Regions from separate parts of the Homo sapiens genome. Here region 1 is linked to region 2. A link means that fine-mapping ties the variant in region 2 to the expression of a gene that starts in the linked region. Tissue or cell type: atrial appendage. Region 2 holds a variant in brackets; the other region holds the start of a gene. All regions are shown on one strand. Distances are between the middles of the regions.

Region 1 (10,987 bases), 280 kb after region 2:
TTTTTCTGTTGTGTTCCCTCGTTTCCCTGGCACCTAGAGCAGTTAAGGGTACATAGCAGGTGCTGGAATCACTGGATCTGCTTTTGCAAAACTAACGCACTATAAGATGAGAATGAGAAGTTTTCTTCTAAATTAATTTGAAAAGTTAAAAGATACTGTTTTTCATCTGTCAAGACGGCAAAAATAAAAAATCTTCGATGGCACATGGGAGGAAATGGGCACTCTTATACACACTGAAAGGGAGGGCAGGGCCACCAAGGACAGTTGTGCAGCTTGTACACTGAAAGGCACTACCCCTAGGGTGAGAGAGAGGTGGGGGACCGGAGATCCAGGAGGCGTTCTGCTAGTGAAAGCTGAGTCAGTCTCAGGAAGGACGTCTTTTGGCAATTTTCAGCCCAGAGGGGCAGGGCAGCTCTTTACTACCATGTTGTATTAGTGGAGGCTTTAGATAGGCTTGTAAAATTGGGCAACTTATTTTGGAAAAATTTTGAAATACCTAGGAAAATGTAAAATCTACAAACTCTTTAACTCAAATTGTCATACGATTTTTATTTTACATCTATGCTTACATGTGCAAGTAAAAAGATATGGCCACAAACACTTCTGACAACAGTTGTCTGTAAACCTAATGAGTGCTTATTTATTGGTAAATATTTTCATAATTAGTGTATCCTATAAAAGACTAGGCAGGAATCGCTGTGGAGTGGATCTGGACATGCAGATATGTAAATTCTCAAAGAGATGCTAAGTGAAACAAGGTATAGAAGAGACTATGTTCCAATGAATGGTTTTTGTCAATCAAAAATCTTCTTAAAAGTCTAAGACACTGAATGTGTATTTCAATACTGACAACATTGTTGTATATATAACCATGCACTCTAATATCTGCTGTTACTCAAATACCTAAATCCAGTTCTACAGAACATTTAGAACATACCACAAATATCCCCACTAACATTCCATTTTAAACACAAAGAATTGCTCATTTTTAAAAAAGTCAAAATATATTTTTAATAGAGGTACCAAAAATTACATTTTTCTAAATTGAATTCTTTTAAGCTTTTCTATTCTGCTTTATATCATCTTGAAGTCCTTCTCCACACTTTCCACAAAGGCACAATTTTTAACCGACTTCAATTAAATTATGTTTCTGTAGCTGCCTGGGTCAGGGCATTCAACACATCAATCACAATGCAGGTGGGAAATGTAAGTACTTTTGAAACAGTCCTCATGCCAATAAGGGAATCTTCGGTTTTGAGAAAGTAAAAGGAAGGTACATGTCATTAGCAGTGAGGTCACAGTCAGTCCTGTTTACTCCTATTCTACCAGGAAACCCATCTTTACGTTTCTCCTTAAACTAAGCCAGGATTTAAATAAAGTGGCAGAATATTATTCGCAGTAAGGTTGAGGCGGGAAATTAAAGAACAATAAAATTAAAAAGAAAGAGAAATAAGTTTTCCTGTTTTAGGCTAACTTGTTCCAGAAGCAGCAACAGGCACAGCCTAGACCCAGGAAAAGTCTTGATAATATTATCTAATATGCTCTGGAGACTCTCTCAGCACTCCCTCAACACAGGGAGAAGAAAAACAAATTTTCCTTTGTTTTACAGAATGAGTTTATAGACTCTTGTTCTCTGTAACTAGTGATTTCAAGTATTCTGTTTTATCTAAGTAGTACAACGAAGGTCATAAAAAGCCTGAGTAGGCCTGAACTACAGCTGCCTGGGCACCACAGAGAAGGTTATAGGATAAGCCTGTGCCCAGGCAAACCTAGAAAACGAACATCTGGGTTGCTTGGCAATGGTCATCTGCAATCCTGTCTTTGTCCTGCCTCTGTATCCCTGCTTTCACGCCACTGTAAGCTTGCTTCAAGCTAGCCCACCTCCGTTTGTGAAGTGTGTATAAAAGTCAAGTACTGTCTTTATTCTGGGCCCAGTCTTTTGGATGTGAGTCAGCTGGGCCTGAGTACACTCAATAAAGATTCTCCTGCTTCAACCTGAGGTCTCCCTCATACTCCCGAATCCCGCAACAAGGTGAGTGTAATAGTTAGAGAAAGCATAGGCCTGAAAGGAGCAAGCTTTGAGAAGCACTCTTACCTTTAACAGAAAATCCCAGATACATACTATTTACATTTTAGTGATCACTGGATAAAGTCTATAATGTCTTTCCTGGCTCTGAATTTTTGTCACAAAAACACAAAACCCATCACTCCAAGGCTTCCTTTTAATGGTTTTCACTTTCACCTACCTTTAGCACTGTTCACGACACCCAAATCCCAAACTGACCATTCAGATGTTTACTGAAATGTGGCTAATGAGGCTGGGCGTGGTGGTTCATGCCTGTAATCCCAGCACTTTCAGAGGCGAATGCGGGAGGATTGCTTGAGCCCAGGAGTTTGAGACCAGCCTGGGCAACATTATGAAACTCCATCTCTACAAAAACTATAACAAAAAATTGGCAGGCATGGTGGCACACACCTGTAGTCACAGCTACTCAGGAGGCTGAGATGGGAGGATCACTTGAGCCCAGGAGTTGGAGGCTGCAGTGAGCTGTGATGGTGCCACTGCACTCCGGCCTGGGTGACAGAGACAGAACCTGTCTCAAAAAGAGGAAAAAAAAAAAAAAAAGACGTGTGTCTAATTTCAGAATTAGGCAATGCAACTAGTTGAATATTTTATTGCACATTGTCCATGATCTTATATGTAAGGCACATTTCCTAGGGAAAGCAGGCATGGATTTAATCATTTATGTTGTACTGCACACTTATTTGCACTATGTAAAACCATGGCTGGAGTGAGAGAAATAACACTTTTAAAAACCAACCTTATATTCTCCATGTCATTACCAGTAATTGATAACTGTTTAATCATCAACTCCAAAGATATTTCTTCCTTATTGGAAGAATTCCAGATAAAACTAAACAGAACTGTCCAAACACATTTCATCCTAATAAAGTTATTTATATAATCACTTATTAGGTCATAACTTATAACTGAGTAATGTTCTTTAGATCTTAAGTGCTTGTCTTTATATAGCTTTACAATAAATTTGTTTCTCTTAAAATTATCTGTGCACTAGATTAAGTTAAATTAAAATAAAATGTATTTAACTGTCTTCAAAATAAGGTATAGGCTATTTTCTTCCTGTAGACTGACAGCACAGATATTGGAAAATCTCTTCTACTTGGTTTTCTGATTCAGTTCAAACTTGTGCTTGCAAGTGAATCTTACGTAAATGTCACCTAAAAAGAGCTCAAGAAGACTCATAAAAAATATTTTTTTCGTAATTTGATTAACTTTCAAGTCATTCACCAAAAGTCAGACCATGCTAGAAAGGGAAGAAAAGTTGGACAACATTCTTGTTTTACCACAAAGACCATGCCAGTTAGCTGGCTTGATTCTCCCACTGATGGGGAGAATGTTTACATTTTAACAATAACTTCACAAATAAACAGATGTAAGAAGTGTTTTCAGTGCATAAAGATCATATACTTTATAAATCCACCTCTCATCTTTCTTCTGGACAGACCACATCTGACTTCGAACGTACTTACTGCAATCAAAAGTGTTTTGTAAAGGACCCTCCTCAGGAATAAACAAGCTCACTAAACCCTCCATACATAACCTGGAGAAACCTCCACAATAATGAAACCCCATCTAGCACTGTTTTTCAAACATATGGTGCATTTCCATTAATTTTCAGGGATAGCCCCTAAAGTAACTTTTGGCTCAACAACCCTGGAAGAGAGGACCTTTGCTCATCTTACACATCAAGTGTTCATGAACAACTCTGATGCCACTAAGTTTCGTTCACAAACTTGCACCTCGGTCGTTCTTTTACAAAAAAAAAAAAGAAAGGTTATTTTGCAAAAGGCAATAGATTTAATCTTGGCTACTATTTACTCTTAATGTTTCTTTCATCTCAGCCCTCCAATGAGAAGTTTAAAAGGAAACATCCGAGGGAGCAAGTTTAGATCTATCTGGAGGAGTTTCTGTGGAGCCAGCCACCCTCACCAGGTGCCTTCCATTAGAGTTTAATGCTTTGCTGCGGTTTCCTGAAAGAGCCCCACAGAGAGTGGGTCTCGATGGGTCCTGAACCGCACCACAACCGGCCAGTGAGGTGAGGGGCGAAGGTGAGGGGCGGCGGCGGGGCGAAGGTGAGGGGCGGCGGCGGGGAGAAGGCTTCGGGACCCCACACGGTCCGGGGGACCGCGAACGAGGAGCGGGGGTGCGGGGCCGCCTGGCGTCCCCGTCGAGGCGGTCTTCATGAGAACGCTCAGAGCAGGGGCGGGCAGGCGAGGGCTTCGAACGCACACACTGGGGCCCCGGACCCGCGTCGCTGAGCTGGGGAGCCCGGCGGCGCGGGCCGGGGACGGCACGGGCACTTTGGCCCCGTCATTGACAGTTGGCACCGGGGGTCCTGGTCGGCCGAGGCGGGGCGTGGCGCCATACCGGGGCGTGGGGCGGCGCAGAGAGGCTGTACCTGGCAGGTACCCACGTACCTATCATGGTCACTGGGTAGGTGGCGGCTGCGGGCCAGGAACAGGCCCATGCGCGCAGCGGCGCCAGCCGCGCCTCCCACCAGCGGCTCTCCTGGGTTAAATCCTCCAGGCCTCCCCGCCCCCGCGCCCGGCCCTAGGAATGCGCACGCGCGGAGGGCGCGGCCCAGGGCCTGCTGGGAGTCGTAGTTCTAACGCGTAGTTTCTCCTCACGCCTCCTGCCCCCAGCCCCCCACCGCCGCCCTTTCCGGCTTCAGGCCCAGCAATCTTACGTCACCGGGGGGCGGGGCTATGCGCCCGCCGTGTTGACCAGTCGCTTAGCAACCGGGAGGCTTACCTTTGGAAGCTTGTTGCAGCTCTAGCCAAGGTCCTGCCCTCTTCCCGCCCCGCCCCTAGGGTCCAGCTCCCTTCACCTAGGAGCTGCCAAACATCTGGATCAACCTGGGCACTACGAGGGGTTGAATTTCTACCATTATCGCGCCTTTTGATATTTTTTTCCAGACCTCCTGCTCACATCCGTAAAGCCCACTGATTCTTTTACTACACTTTTTATGAGAACAAGACATTTTCTAGGAAGATGGTGGCAGAAAAAGAGACCCTGAGCTTAAACAAATGCCCAGACAAGATGCCGAAGAGGACCAAGCTGCTGGCACAACAGCCGCTCCCGGTGCACCAGCCTCACTCTCTGGTTTCTGAGGGTTTCACAGTCAAAGCCATGATGAAAAACTCAGTCGTAAGTGATCTTCCTGAATTAAATGCACTCGCTCTGAATCAGGGGACACGAGATTTACAGAGGTTGGCCAGCCTTAGGATGGACTCTGAGCCATGTCCTGGGTGGTCTTTGCCAAAAAAGGCAGTTACTTGGCAAGTAGCAAACGGTGCCCCACAGTGTGTGGGGGGCAGGCTAGGTTGTTAGAATCTTGGGCAAGTGATGTACTCTGCCCATTTATAAGCACCTTCCTGATAACTTATGGTTTCTGGACCGCCCAAAATTACTCTTAAGCTATTTACACGAGGAAAAAAGATCCCCTTTACTTACTAATTCCTAACTAGCCCCACTCAGCAAAGGGCCTTATAGAAGGTGAGTTCTTAGAAATCATAAACTCTTGCAAAATTTAACATGAGCTGATATACAACCGGGAACATAAACTCATGAAATAATCTATAATGAGAAATTTCTTCACTTCAACCTAGGAAATTTTAGAATATCCTAGCATTTGCTCTAACAACACTTGTCTCTTACAAAATGATGTCATCTTCTTAGAGTACTGAAAGCCAACTTAATATGAACACTGTTTCCTGACAGGCCTTTTAAGATGATGTGCTTTAAACAATACAAGCTTTAGCTCATATATCTCTGCTACTAATACAATTCATATTTCATCTCTATTATTTGTAGTAATAAAAATAAAATATTCTAAGTATCATTAGAGAAAAAAGATTAAAAATATATACAAATATTTTAGCTGTCTGCATGATAGTATATATTTTTTAAACCTTCCTATTTGTTAAATAGCTTTACACTTGGTATGCTAAGACAGATTTTGCTACTGAGTAAGCAACTGTCTGGGAATGAGGCATTAAATAATAAATGCATCTTTCAAATTTGTGTAATTTACACCCTGGGAAGATCTGAGTTATTACATGGCAATTCATTATGTTAAATGAATAGTGTTGTTTTCCAGTGTCACATTATTTCCTTTGCTTATAGGTTGCAAACCTGATAACTTATTCCTAAACGACATACTTAAAATACATGAATGAAACAGATTACCTATAGACCTCTAGGCCAGGTTCCCATGTGGCTATGCAAAACGATATCCTAATTATTGGGAAGTGTGTCAGGTGATTTACAGTAGTTAAAATTCTTGGAAATGGACTAAAATTCTGCTTGTTGTAACTAATTCTTTTTCATGGAATTTCACATAAATTGGTTCTCCTAGGAGTCAAGATGATGCATTTATCAGCAATACCATAACCATTCAGGTTAATCATTTAGTTTTTCTTCTACACAATATTTACAATTTTGATGTTTTTTAATGTTATACTTTAATTTTTTTTTTACTGGTTGGGGTTCTTTTCTGTTTTTTCCTAAACCTGTATTCATAATTCTTGTATCATATTAATTCTTTAATATAATCTTACACCTAAAGAGATAGTTCTGCAAAATCTGATGTTTCTGTATTGCCAAATGTAATAAGTATGCCTACATGACTTAAAAAAAACATTGATTATGAAGCAGGCTTCTTTATAAACAACTTAATTGAGATCCATTATCTTCTCTTTTTATGTTCTAAAGGAAAATCTTGTACTAGCAATACCTCTCTTGCCATTGGAAATCGTAATTCTTAAATGCAAACATTATTTATCCATTCATCTATTTATTCAGTCAACAACTGTCTCTCTTTTTTTTTTTTTTAATACCCAGTGTTTGCTAAGCACAGTTCTGGGGATTTGGGATCAGCAAAGCAAAGTCCCTGCCCTTAGTACTCCGAGGAAAACCAAAATAACAACATTCAAATCTTGATAAAAGAAGGCTGGACAATACCGTTTATACAAAATAACTTCAGTGGTACAGGAAATAAAAATTTTCAATTTCATAACCAATATTTACATTTCACCATTTTTATCTTTAGCAGTATAGACTTCTCAGCATTATAAGGTGAAAATGTCCTCATCTCTTTCTGAAGGTGTATTTTGATTCAGGACGTGTATGCCAATTTCCAGCTTTTCTTAATTGCAACCTCATGCTCCAAGAGCCAACACCCTCCAAACCACTTTTCCAGTTAGATAAGTCAACATTCCAATGCTCTTCCACCTAAAACATGAAGAACTGTATATATCATAAGGAGTTATACAGAGACTCCTGATATTTCTCTGAGTGCGATAGTGATACAAGTACATAAACTTGATAATAAATATGTTTCATCAAATGGGCTGTGCAAGCAGAAATGCTTATTTAAACAATCTGGATATGAGAGTGCAAGATTATTGAAAAAATAATGATAAATGTAAATGGCAAAATTTTTAAAATCTCAATGTCAAATATTTTTCTTCAATAGAAACTAGACTTTCTTTCCATGAAATTTTTGTTGCATTCTATAAGAAAACAAGCATCACAAAAGCCCTGCAATGAAATAATATTCAAATTCACATTTTTATAGTGCTTGCCTATAAAGAGATATGAGATACACAACTTGAAGATTTCATAGTTCATTTTCCTTTAAAAGTCTTGTTTGGGGTGTGATAGAGCCCATGACCAGAAACTAGTAACCCAGTATTTTGTTGTCTTTATCTTGTCAGATACTTTCTGTGCTGAACAAGCTTATCACGAAGCAAGTTAGAAAATCGACCCAGGGTTATGGTGACAGAGAAGTTGAGTTCAGCCTAAGCTTTCTATTACAGCTTTCCTTCTCAAAAGACTATAGATGCTTTATGCTCAAAGTTTAGGGGAATGGAATAAATAATTTTTTTAATATTAAAGGTTGAGTATTCCTATTCCAAAAGTCTGAAACCTGAAGTGGTCCAAAATACAAAACTTTTTGAGTGTTGACATTACACTCAAAGAAAACTCTTTTGAGCATTTTGGATTTCAGATTTTCAGAACTGGCGTGACCATCAGTATATAATACAGATATAGTCAGCTCTTTGTACAGATTCTGCCTCCATGGATTCAACTAACCTTGGATTGAAATGTTTGGGATAAAAATTTTATCTGTATTGAACATGTACAGACTTTTTTTTTTGAGTCATTATTCCCTAAACAATAGAGCATAGCAACTATTTATGGAGCATTTATATTGTTTTAGATATTATAAGTAATATAGACATGATTTAAAGTATATAGGTAGAAATGTGTAGGTTACATACAAATACTACGCCATGTTATATCAGGGACTTGAGCATCTGAAGATTTTGGTATCTGCAGGAGGTCCTGGAAACAATTCCTCATGGAGACTGAGGGATGACTGTATTCCAAATTTGAACAAAAAACAAAAACAAATCCAAAACACTTCTGGTCCCAAGCATTTCAGATAAGGGATAGTTCAACCTATACTTTACATGTATAGTGTGTTTTATATTTACCAATCATGTGCTCATTTAACACGTAGTGGTAATCATCAATATTTATAAATTATATATTAAAATATTAATTTGGCTTCTGTAACACTGACCAAATAACAATAGCTTAATTAAGATGGAAGTTGTTTCTCTCATAATAGAAGTTCAATTTTGTAGGCAATCCCAGGAGGTTGGGCAGCATTCCCCATGAGGCAGGTGCAGGGGCATAGGAGCATGTTTGTTCTTTGCATCCTGTAAAATGACACCTGAGACAAGGGGGGCTCGAGACCACCAGGGTCAAATACCTGCCCTCAAGAAGGAGGAAAGTGGAAGCAGAGAGCTTCCCATTATGTGCATGACCCAGACACAGCACCCCACTTTCATTCTCATCCAACTGGCCAGAACCTAGTAATAAATACACCTACATTTTCCCTTTTTGCAAAAGCCTATGAAAGCTTGACCCATGAAGCAACTCCCAAGCCCACGTACCTGTCTCCTCAGGAAAAGGATGAAGGAAGCTATGTAGTTCCAAAAGGGCATCATCTCCAACACCTACTTCAGGTGGAGGAGAGAAAAATGGGTATGGAGCAATCTGCAAGAATGAGGCAGGAAGAAATGAAGAGCAAACAGCTTCACTATGAGGGCATGTCCCAGAAACAGCAATCCTCACTCCTGCTCAAATCCATTGCCAAAACCTAGTCTTATGGCCACAGCTAGTTGCAAGAGAGGCTGGGACATGTAGTCTTTAACTGGTAGCTCTGTGTCCGGCTCAAACTCACAATGTTTTATTACTGTAGCCAAGGAATATTGGGGGATAATTAGAAGTGTCTAGCTCCAGTGCTAAATGTGCTACATTATTAGTGAAGAAAAGGAGAGAGACAAGTAAAATAATTACAATACAAATAAACAGATGTCTCTGGCAGAGAAGTACTAATGATGAAGGGACCAAGTGGCGATGAACTAATGGGTGCCCTCATCACCTTTTGTCTAGGCTTGTACAATATCATCCACCTATCAATTGGTTGACTCCCTCAATCAATTATCAGTACAATTACACTAATCTTTCTGGTACAATGTTCTGCTCCTATCACTATTCAGAGCTTTTGGAGCTTCCCAATTCTTATAGAAAAAAAGTCAAGATACTTCCCCAGGGCCAGCAAGGTCTTGTGTGATCTAATCCCATTCTGTGTTCTAAAATTTCATCTCCCACTGTTCTCATTTGCTTCAGTCAATCTGAACCAAGGAAATAAACTCATATTCTTTATTTTTGTGTTTCTGTTTATGTTGTTCCCTTTGCTCGAACACCCTTCTCCCTACATATCTGCATATACAAATTCATTCTATCATCAGGTAACACATATCTATTGATCACAGACTATGTGCAAAGCACTGTTTTAAATGCTAGGAATTTAGCAGTCAGCAAAAGACAGAACACATGCTGTCAAGAAGCTTATATTTTTGTGGCCAGCAAAATGCCAACTGCTTTAAGAAGACTTCTTTAATTCTCCCTTCCTGTCACCCACATAGAAAGTTATCCTTTATTCATTGTGTTCTACTTTGTATTATGGTCATTTCTGCTCATGTTTTATCTCCTTATGTAAATTCTCCGTGAGGGCAGTATCCACATCTAAGTCACTTTTTAATCTTAACCAGAACCTAACAGTGTATTCAATAAATATTTGATGAATGAAGGAAAGCAATTCTACCCTTTCTTCTTATCTCATATTCTCCTACTTTCTTATTATAATTGTTATTTGTCTCTATTTTGAATTTTTTTAAGCCATCCTCTCTAATTGTGGAGCCCAGAAGCTCCCTTTAAAACTTGAGAAGGCCGAATCATGGCATTCGTCACCTCAACCCCTCAGGTGGCTCCCTGCCTCACTCAGAGTAAAAGCTAAGCTTCCTCTATTGGGAAGGCCCTGTGTGATCTGCCCACCCTTGCTGCTTTATGCAACTCTGCTGGCCCTGCCTCCGGAACTCAGTTAGTGCCACGCCTTTGCCCTTCCTGTTTCCTCTGCCTGAAATGCATTTTACCCTGTGTGTCCTCATCTCTTGATGCTTCAAATTTCTGTTTAAAAATTAGCTATTTAGTGAGCCTCTTCCTGACCACTCTATTTTAAACTTCAGACCCTTAACAATCCCTTCCATCCCTGCTCCAGCACTCCCATCTCCCTTCCCTGTTTTATATTTTTCCCTCTAATATTAATTTAGTTGAGCCTGTGTTTTTCTTCTACCAGAGAGTAAGCCCCAGAAGGGCAGGAATTTGTTTATTTCACCCATTGCTGCATCCTCACCTCAAGAAAAATTTATGGCACATAGTAGCTGCCATTTATCTTATTTTGATCAGTTGAATTAATGAAAGACTATATTTTATACTATAATTAGACAATCATCTTCAAATCAGTGGCTCCAAAGAAAATGCCAATGA
Region 2 (10,987 bases):
AAACCAAAATTGCATTCTCCCTTTGACATCCATCCTGGGAAACAGAGAGACTTGAGCAGGACACTTGCTTGATTGGAATTGAAAGAGTCCCATGAGTTTATTGAAAAGACTCAGCTCTGACAGCATGTACACACTCACACTCCCTCCACAGTGACCCTCTTAATAAAAATAGGAGGCGATGTGTTAGCACTCAAGGTATAGCAATGGAAAAAAATCTAAGCTGCTCTATAGACCAGAGTGAAGACCCACTCGGGGCTATGGCTCAGAGCCCTAGACTTGGGTGGTCCTGGCCAAAATGCTCCACTGGGTCTATGAAGACAATTATTTGCCCTCTTTTTGGCAGGGAGGGGGTGGAGACACTAGTGACACCATTTGTCTTATTGAAGCCACTGTTCCCCGTGAGACCCAGGCTGCATCCTCTAGTCTGTCTGTCTGCATGCCGTCTTCTCACTGCACCTGCTGTCCCACCTCTTCAGCGTCTCTCACTGCCCTTTACTTTCCATTCTTTCTCTCACTGCTTGAAGTCACGCTCTCATCACATCTTTTCTAGAGTCTCATAATAGCCCCCAACTGGAGTCTTGATCCACGCCATCACCTCCAAAAGGCCCTACATAGTTCTGCAAAATGAGCCTTATTAATACAGAGCTATGTCACACCACTCAAATCCTTTAAGTCTCACACTGTCGGCTGGTGAGGAAAGACTCCAAGATCCCTTTCATCTAGCACAAACCTACATTCCAGCATTTTCTTCATTAATCTCCATGTGTACTCTTTTAAACTAAATGCTCCCAGAAAAAAAAAAATCACAAAAAACTGCTGCACACAACTTCTTGCTTTTATTCATGACCTCCCTCCTTCTCCTCTTCCTATTGAAATCCTGCCTACCTCCATGGCCCACTTCAAATGTGACCTCCCCCAAGAAGCTTCTGGCTATCAGCTACTGCAAAAGCCTGATCTTCCTTATTCAGGGCACCAGTGGCATTTACTATATATGTCTTTTAATATTCACCACATTCCTCATGGAAGCAGGATAGCACACGGGTTAAAAGAACATCCTGAAGCATTAGGAAGACCTATGAAAAATCCCCACAGACTCCTTTAATTGGCTTAGGATGCTAGGGGTCAATCTATTAACCTCCCTCTTTAGGTCTCAGTTCCCTTATCTTGAAAACATAAATAAACCACAGACCATATTATTCGGTTCATTAAATAATATTTATAGTATTTAAAACTATCGTCTTGTAACATTTAAAAATAATGGACATTTAGCTGTTTTTGATATACATTTTGCCTTCTTTAAAAGATAACAAACTCCTCAAGGGCAAGTGTTATTGTTTATTTACTGCTGTGTTTCCTTTAAATGTAGTACTATAGCTAATTATTTCTCAATACCAATGTGAGATGACCCACCTCATCATAATTATAATAATCATTACAATGCCAATAATAATCAGGCACTTACTATGTGCCAGACATTGTGCTCTCATATGGTTTTTCTAAGCCTCCCAGTGATCTGGTCAGGTCCCTATTATTATCCTTATTTTACAGAATAATAAACGAAGGCACAGGGAATGGGACCCACTTTTCTAAGGACATTAATTACTTTCTAATGGAACTGGGTTTCAAATTTATTTCAATCTAACTCTAAAGCTCATTCCATTTCTACTAAAATAGGCTTCCTGAAACCATCTCAGAAGAAAAGTCCAGGCCAGGCACAATGGCTCAAGCCTGTAATCCTAACACTTTGGGAGGCCAAGGGGCAAGGATGACTTGAGCCCAGAAGTTCAAGACCAGCCTGGGCAACAAAGTGAGACCCCATCTCTACAAAAAATTTTTTTAAACAATCAGCAGGGCGTGGTGGCGTGCACTTGCAGTCCCAGCTACTCTGGAGGCTGAGGTGGGATGACTGTGTAAGCCCAGGAATTAGAGGTTTCAGTGAGCTATGGTTGTGCCATTGCACTCAGTCACCCTGGGTGACAGAGACCTTGTCTAAAAAAAAAAAAAAAAAAAAAAAAAAAAAAAAAAAAAAGTCCACATTTCTATCCCTCATGATTAAAAAGATAACAATAAAAAGGCTTTATGACATAAATCAGATATTCCCTATATGGGTGTGCAGTACAAATAAATAAAAGCTCCAGTGAGGAGCTAAGAGCAAAGGACCGTGAACAATAACCATGAACAACATGGGCCCCAAAACAGACGTGACACTCCAGTGAGGGCAGGTGGTCCAGATGGCACCACAAGAACAAAGGCCTGACATCTCTGACCAGCACGGAAAGTGTTTAGAAAAAGGAAGGACGACCAGTGACAAAGTGCTCCAAATAAAGAAAATTCATGAAAAATACTAATTACGGAGGAAAAGGTGCTTTTGATACACTTTTAAGTCAATTTCATTTGACGCCTTTGAAAATAGAGGGGAAGAAATAAAAATGTATTGGAAGCCCTGAGGTATCTTCACAGCATCCTCAGATCAGAGACCATAAGACAACCAATTCATCAGAAAAGACACATGACAAGTTAGGGGCTATAGGGACAAAAGATATGACCCCAGTTCTAAATTTCATTTTCTACTAGTGAGAATAGATTTAAAGTAAAACACCATAGGAAGGAATGTGGGAAGAAGTGGCTGGAATTTGTGCCAAAGCTGCTATAAAACCAGATAAAAATTCCAGGAGATCCTAAGTTTATGATTTTGCTCCAGGGGTTCAAATCATGGAACTCCTACTGCAAGGATGAGAGTTTTTTTGTAAAGGGAAACTGCAAAAAATATTAAAGATACCTCTGTCCAACTACTGAAATCCTAAGTATATACAAGTTTTTTCTATAATAGAAAAGTTACAGATTTAAAGTTACAGTATTTAGATAAATCATAAATACTACGGATATGAATATTTTTAACAGTAAATCTAACATACAATATAAATTTAAAATGGAAAGATAAACCAAATACATAATATTTGACCAACTAAAACATTCGCATGAATAAGAAAAAACATCTTAAGAAACTCACTGAGTTCATAATCAAGTGCCATTATGTGAAAAATGGCTAGTGCTGAATGGCAGTAATGTGATTTGAGTGGGTCTCAACCTTTTTCTGACATATGTGGGAAACATGTCATGTCCCATCTGTACCAGCCCCTGAACTCCAGCCATGATTTCCAAAACAGGAGTGGAAGGAAGTACCCAGTTCTCCCCACCTACTACCTCTTTAAAGTCACAGAAGGCAGAACGTCTTTAGAGCTACATAAAGAGAAATTTGAATGCTGGTTGTAACGCTTGCTAATTTTATGACAAGTTACCTGGCCACCTTGACTGTTAGCTTCCTGATCTAATAAATCGGTATAAGGGATGCAACACCAATGTCTGTTACACAAGATTTATTGAGATTATGGATGTATTAGAAAATCTCAGAAAGAGACTAGTACAGGGCCTATCCTCCTAGTGCTGGGCAAGTGTGTGCTCCAAAAATAGTTCCCTATTCTAGGCACCTAGAGGAGGTAGAGCTAATGAAAGCAGTGTCCTTTGCTTGCATGGTAACTAAGGGAGATTAGATAGGATGTGGGTAAATACTAAATAAAGTAGCCAATTTTTCTGGATTCTGCTCCTCTTGGTGGACAGAAAACTTCCAGAGACCAAGAGATATGATAGAGAATATGGCTCACCTCTACTTTCTAAGGTTTAATTACATATGAAAAGCTTGGAAATGCATTGTTTTAATAATTGTTTTGATGACGTATAATATAGTATCAGAAACAAACAACATACCAGTAAACATTATCAATCATGTGTATTATCAATCAACATCATAATGCACTGATAACAAAAAACATAATGAGATATATCCAGATTCCTTTTTTATGATATCCCTAACCAGGGTTGAGAAGTCCCAGAGAGTAAGGAAGTGAATGGGTGGGAAGAGGGGAAAGGGTTATTGGTGGATGGGCCCTTATATTTCTTTTAAGACAATTTTATTTACCAAGTCTGACCAGGGTATAAACTTCATAAATATAGTAGTCAATATCAATAATTAATGATTCTTAAATGATTCTGGCTGCTCCTCAAGCAGCCATTCCGCCTCCTGCACTGAGAAGAGCAATGTCATTCATCAGCACAGCCCCATCCTCCTTGTCATTGGTCAAATGATTGGTTCAGGGATGATGCAAGCCAATCTGTGCCTGGCACTCCCCTTGTTCCAGTGATTGATTCTGCAGAATACAGGTGACATAAGGTGGACTAATCAAAGTCATATCCAGAACTGTCAAAGGTTCGGTGAAGTCCTTTTAGATGGCAAATAACATCATGTGATGCCTCAGACAGTTTTGCTGAGAGACCCAAAGAAAATCACAGCCCAAGATAGACCATTAACATGAGCACAAAAATGGACTCAGTGCACTGAAGGCAGGCAATTCTTCCTCATGAGAGGGTTTCCTAAGCTCCGTGGGATGTTCGGCTCCACCTGCAGCCCAGTAAGTATCAGAGGCACGCCCCGGTTAATTGCGGCAACACAAAAGTAACTCCACATGTTTCCAAATGTCCCTTGCCTGGGAAGTTTCTTCTGCACCTTTGAGAACTATCACTAAATCTAGTATTCCCTAACTTTAGCAAACCAACCAACCTGTCCTCACACCCTCCTGCGATTACTACCCCATTTTTCTATATAGAAATTTTCATTGAGAATTTCTTATCACCCTGGTCTCCATTTCTTTATTTTATACTCTTCCGTGAGCCAACACTTGAAGA[C/G]TGCTCTTGGTAAAGCAATGAGCTCTACACTTCAATCCTGTCATCACATTTCAGTTCTTATCAGGTTGACCTTCCAGGGACATTCAATATAGTTGGCTTCTGTTCTCATCATCCTTTCTTCTCTTGGCACCCGCCAGAGAAACCCTTCTGGTTTCCCCTACAAAAGAGGACATACTTTTGTAGCTTCCTCTTCTGGATTCTCTCCCTTTATTGGCCCTGCAGATTTTGGAGCATCCCAGGAGTCTGAATCTGTGTATTCTCCCAGGTGACCTCCTCTAATCCCGTGGCTGTAATGCAATGGATATGTCATCAACTCCCAAATCCTTATTTCCAGACTTGCCATCTCCCTGGACCTTTCTTTCTCTTTCTCTTTCTTTCTCTTCCTCCCTCCCTCCCTCCTTCCCTTCCTCCCTCCCTCCTTTATTTCTTTCTTTTCCTCTCTCTCTCTCTCCCTTCCTCTCTCTCTCTCTCTCTCATCTCACTCTGTCTCCCACTATAGAGTGCAGTGGCACGATCTCAGCTCACTGCAACCTCCGCCTCGCAGGTTCAAGCAATTCTCCTGCCTCAGCCTCCCGAGTACCTGCGATTACAGATGCCCACCACCACACCCAGCAATTTTTGTATTTTTAGTAGAGAAGGGGTTTCCTCATGTTGGCCAGGCTGGTCTCGAACTCCTGACCTCAGGTGATCAATTCGCCTCAGCCTCCCTAAGTGCTGGTATTACAGGCATGAGCCACCACACCTGGCCCTCACTGGAACTTCAGATAATTGCATCTACTAGCATTTGATATCTACACGGATGTCCAGTAGATAAATAAAATAAACATTCTCTTCCTACACCTGTCTTAGTGCTTTGCCTTATTCCTACCCTCTTTGATCCATCAATAAATTTTGTTAACGGTAGTCCTTCATTTCTAACCTAATCTCATCTACAGCAATCTATTTCCCTACCCAATAATTTGTGGTGGAACACAAATCTCTAGAACTGCATCTTTGGACTCATAGCTCAATGTTAAGTGACCTTGCATGTGCAATTTCATCTTCATTGGGTTGTTATAAGGATCTGCATTATTACTAGCTACAAGCATTTTTATAGCTCGTTTTTTATTTTTTAATTGCTATTTTTATGTTTTATATTTTATTATTTATTTTTATTTTTATAACTATTACCTGCATACTCATTTAGCACTTGAGTATATGCTGTATGATACCATCCTCTAGTAGCTTGTTTCATAATTCTTTATTTCTGTCTTTGAAGATCTTTGTGACAGGAAGCCTCATTTCATCTCCCCACTTATACATAGAGGCCAGGATTTTTGCCTTTTATAATGAATTATTAAATGCTATCGGATCAACCCTCCTGCAAAAAAACTACTATAAAATTGGGACTTCACTAAAGAAAGCAGATTCTTGAAAAGCCATAGAAGAGTGAACAAAAAAAATGAAGATTTCTAGTTAGGGGGTCCACATCAGGAGAAGTACAGTTACGTAAAGGGAGTGCCCATTCTCACAGCTTTAGGCTTGAAGCCAGGTGCAGTCCGTGCACATGGCATGTGGGCCAGCAGGCACTTTGGTTGCAAAGCCACAGTTTTTCTGGCTGAAGAAGCAAAACACCAAGACTGGGACACCTGCCTCCGAGGAGACACAGAAGAAAATGAGTCAGAAAGAGAAACCCAAATTTCTATCTATCCACGTCTCTGGCTAACCCCTGAATGATGAAGGTGCGTTATCAGACTCAAAGTTGCTCAGCTAAAGGAAGGATGTGCTCAAGGAGGTGAAGTATAATGCCCCTGTGACAGTAAATCCCCTGTGAATGTAAACGCCCCTATGACTGTAAATGCCCCTTTGAGTGTAACACCCCTGTGAATATGAACGCCCGTGAATGTAAACGCCCCTGTGATTGTAATCCCCCTGTGAATGTAAACGCCCCTGTGATTGTAATCCCCCTGTGAATGTAAACGCCCCTATGATTGTAACACCCCTGTGATTGTCTTCCTCCTGAAGAATACAGCATGGAAAGGGGAACAAAAACAACCTCACAGTGGAGAAACCTGACAGGCGCTACCGCAGCCAGGTGATCAAGGTCAACATCAACAGTGGTAAGTCATCTTGATCATGTTTACCCTTGACACAGTGTGATGCAATGGGCAATTTATCTCTGTGGGCTTTCTCTCAAAAACACATAAGCCCAGTCTAATCTTCACGAAAACATCGCACAAAACGCAATTGAGGGACGTTGTAAAAAACACCTGGCCAGCACTGCGCAAACCTTTCAAGGTCATCCAAAACAAGAACAGTCTTTAGAAACTGTTAGAGTCTAAGGGCCTAAGGAGATGAGTAAATGCAATGTGGTAGCCTGGATGGAATCCTGGAAAAGAAAAGAGACATTCGGTAAAACTAAGAATATCCAAATACAGTTTGAATTTTAGTTAATAAGAATGTATCAGCATTCTTTCATTAATGATAACAGATGTAGTATAACAATGTAAGAAGTTTAAAATAGGGAAACTGGGTGTGGGGTACATGGGAACTCCCTGTACTATTTTTGCATCTTTTTCTGTAAAACTAAAACTGTTGTAAAATAAATGTTCATATATATTAAAGAAAAAGATCTAGATGGAGATCAGACTTGCACACAAAGAACAGATTTTCTTTTCAAGATCAACCAAAATAAATGTCTTCCAAAACAAACAAACAAAGAACCAAGGGTCACTGGAGAAAAAATTACAGAATTCAGTGTCTCCAGTAATTACGTTTATAATGTCTGCGATATAATTTTAAAAGTATCTAACATTTCAAAGAACCATGAAAGTAAACCATTCTCGGAGAAAAGAAAATCAAGTGAGACAAAACCCTGAAATGACTCTAATTTTGAAACTAGGAAACAAAATTTTAAAGGAGCTAGTAGTATTACTGTCCTTAAAGGAGTAAAAAAAAAAAAAAAAAAATTGCAATGAGTGGAAAGATATGACAGATAATCAGAGAAATAGAAATTATAAAAAGGAATCAGGCCGGGCATGGTGGCTCACTCCTAGCAATTTTTTGGGAGGCCCACACGGGCAGATCACTTGAGCCCAGGAGTTTGAGATCAACCTGAGCAATACAGTGAGACCTTAGCTCTATTTTAAAAAAAAGAAAAAAAGAGAGAGAGAGAGAATCAAATAGAAATTCTAGAACTAAAACTACAATTGCCTGGAATAAAAATCTGTTAAATAAATTTAATACCCAAATGGAGATTAAAGAGGAAAGCATTAGTGAAGAATAAAGAATTGTTTTTAAATGAATAGATGTTAGGGACATATTAGATAATATCAAATGATCTAATATATATGTTGTTGGAGTCACAAAGAAAAAATGAAAGAATGGGGCAGAAAAATTTTTCAAAAAATAATGCCCTCAAATTTTAATATGTGATGAAATAAATAAATTTACATATTCAAGATGTTCAACAAATGTCAAGCAGGATAAATATGAACGTGCTTGTGTCAAGGCAAATCATAGCATAGTCAAACTATGGAAAGCCAAAGACAAGGAACAAGCTTTGAAAACAACAAGAAAAGTTTGTCTGTCACATACAGGGTTAAAATGATGTAATTAAGGGTTAACTTCTGGTCAGAAACAATGGAGTCCAGAAGTGACGGCACAATATTACAGTTCAGGAAGAAAACAAAAAGCAAAAAATGCTTGTCAATGCAGAAGTTTATATCCAGTGAAAATATCTTTTAAAAATGAGAATAAAATAAAGATATTTTAAGATTAAATAAAATTAAGATAATTTATCACAAGCAGACTCATATCACAAGAAATATCAAATAAACTCTTCAGGCTGAAGTGAAATGGTACAAGACAGAGATTCAAATCCACAAGAAACAGTAAAAGCATCATAAGTGCTAAATACAGAAGATAATTAGGTAGGAATTTTTTTGCTTTATTCAACATAATTTATTTAATGCAGATGACTGGGTAAAGCAGAAATTCTATTCCATGGGGAGTTTAGAACATATAATATGTATGCCAAGTATGGCATAATAGGTGCGGGGTAAATATGGGTCTTTTATTTATTTTATGAAGTGGAGCAATATTAACAATGAAGAAACTAAGAAGTTAAGGACAGACATTATATTTCTTATAGTAAAAATCAAAATGAATAAAAATATTGACCCAAAAAGCAAGCAAAAATCATAATGGAATTCCAAAAAATATTGAAATAATCCTTCCAAAAAGGGCAGGAGATAATGAAGAATGGAAGAAAAATAGAGAGGTAGATAGAAAAATACAATAAACTGGTGACCAGAACTCACCACATCAATAATTACATTAAATTTTAATGAAGTAAACACTCCAATTAAAAGGCAGGGACTACGTGGACAGAGGGAAGTGGGTCCAGCTATACTCTGTCTACAGGGCTGCATTTTAGATATAAAGACACAAATGGTTTCAAAATAAATGAATAAAAAATACGCCAAGTAAAATGTAATCATAAGAAGGCAGGGATGACAATATTATTAATATCACAAAAAATAGATTCAAAGGCAAAACTATTTTGAAAAAACAAAAAGAGAGAAACTTAAGACTATGCTGCCACCACTTGAAAAGGTGGATCGCAAGGCTCAAGAATCATAGCCCAAGCCTTCCCACTCCTTCCCTCCTTGAGGTGGAAGAGGTGCCCGGTACTGCATCGGGCCAGACTGGGAATGTCAAGGTCTCCTGCCACTTCCAGGTTCCCCGGCTGGAAACAGAATGAGGACTTCCTACCCTCCTCAGGGAGTAAGAGACCCTGGTCTTAGAACATAGCAACTGATGAGGACATCGCGCATAGCCTCAAGGAAACAGCTTTGGTTCTTTGACGAGGGTGTATCTCCAGTAGAATTCCCTCCTCTCTCTCTTTTTCCTTCTCTCTCTCCCCAACATACTCTTTTTTTATTCTTTGATTAATTCTTCCACTTTTAAAATTATTTAGTAGAAACCACATTAAGGGAGATGGAGAATGAGAGGTAGGAAAAAGGCAACTGAAAATCTATATAATAAGACGTGTATACTGTGGCTAAGACCATGGATGTTAGAACCCTCTGTGTGGGTTCACAGACTAGCTCTGTCCCATCCTAACCAACTATGTAAGCATGTCACACAGTTTCTCTCTCTCAATTTATTACCAACAAAATAGGCAATAATAATAGTATCTGGCCAGACACGGTGGCTCACACCTGTAATCCCAGAAGTTTGGGAGGCTGAAGTGGGCAGATCACCTGAGGTCAGGAGTTCGAGACCAGCCTGGCCAACATGGTGAAACCCCATCTCTACTAAAAATATCAAAATTAGCTGGGCGTGGTGGCGCACACCTGTAATCCCAGCTACTCAGGAGGCTGAGACAGGAGAATCACATGAACCCAGGAGGTGGAGGTTGCAGTGAACTGAGATCGCGCCATGGCACTCCAGCCTGGGCGACAAGAGTGAGACTGTGTCTCCAAAAAAAAACGATGAGAAAGTGGACATAATAATAAGGGCAAAACTCTTTGGGGAAGGAGATGACAAAGAAAGGAGAAGAAAGACTGGATGATAACTAGAGAGGGTTTGTGTCTTATAAGGTATACGTTCTCAGTATACTTTGTACCTCATCAAAAATAATAATCATAGTATCTACCTCCTAAAGTTGTTGTGAGAATTTAATAAATCAATATAAGAAAGGTATTTAGAAGAGTGCCTAGGCACATTTTAAGTTTCAGCAATTATTGACTCTTAACTTCAGGTCCAACATATAGTGTAAAAATTATTGTAATTATCACGTCAGTTGTGCCATATTAATGTTTGGTTTTAAAAATGTACCATTTATTTTCTTTAAATAAGAAAAGTGTTCCCAATGGAGCTCTATTCCACTACACTTTATAGTAAATTGTAATTGGTCTAAAGTGTCGTTAGTATACTGATAGTGATATCTTCTGTTTAAATAGAGCTCTCAATTTTCAAAGTGCTTTTACAGACATTATCTCAGTTAATCTTCACAATAGCACTGAAAGATAATTGGGAGACCATTTACTATTCCTATTTTTAAAATAAAGAAACAGATGCACAAAGAATAAAAGTGGCTTGCCCAAACTTCACAAGGAAAGAAGCAGGAAAAAGAATCTTGGGTCCTAAACTCCCTCCTCTGTGTCAGTGGCTTTCACACTGGACTGTATGTTACCCTGAGGGTATATGGGACGTGCCAATGGAAAGTTCTCCTATTCCTCACACACCGTTCCTTCAAACA

Evidence for each region. PIP is the estimated chance that this variant, and not a neighbour inherited with it, causes the effect.
Region 1: it holds the start of PACRG, and the variant in region 2 is fine-mapped to the expression of PACRG in atrial appendage (GTEx, PIP above 0.99). The same link has a PIP of 0.9 or more in left ventricle.

Annotation. Positions count from the first base shown.
Region 1 is chr6:162,723,162-162,734,148 of GRCh38, forward strand. PACRG (parkin coregulated) reads left to right here and starts at 4,813. Exons shown (of 5, transcript NM_001080379.2): 1 at 4,813-5,230. The coding sequence starts at 5,075. It overlaps PRKN (parkin RBR E3 ubiquitin protein ligase), which reads right to left and starts at 4,605. Exons shown (of 12, transcript NM_004562.3): 1 at 4,501-4,605. The coding sequence starts at 4,507. RefSeq lists silencers at 4,183-4,722, 4,212-4,433.
Region 2 is chr6:162,443,699-162,454,685 of GRCh38, forward strand. All of the region lies in intron 1 of PRKN (parkin RBR E3 ubiquitin protein ligase), which reads right to left. Among named protein-coding and RNA genes, the nearest start is that of LNCR-SMAL, 210 kb to the left of the region's middle. The variant C/G (reference allele first, on the strand shown) is at 4,741.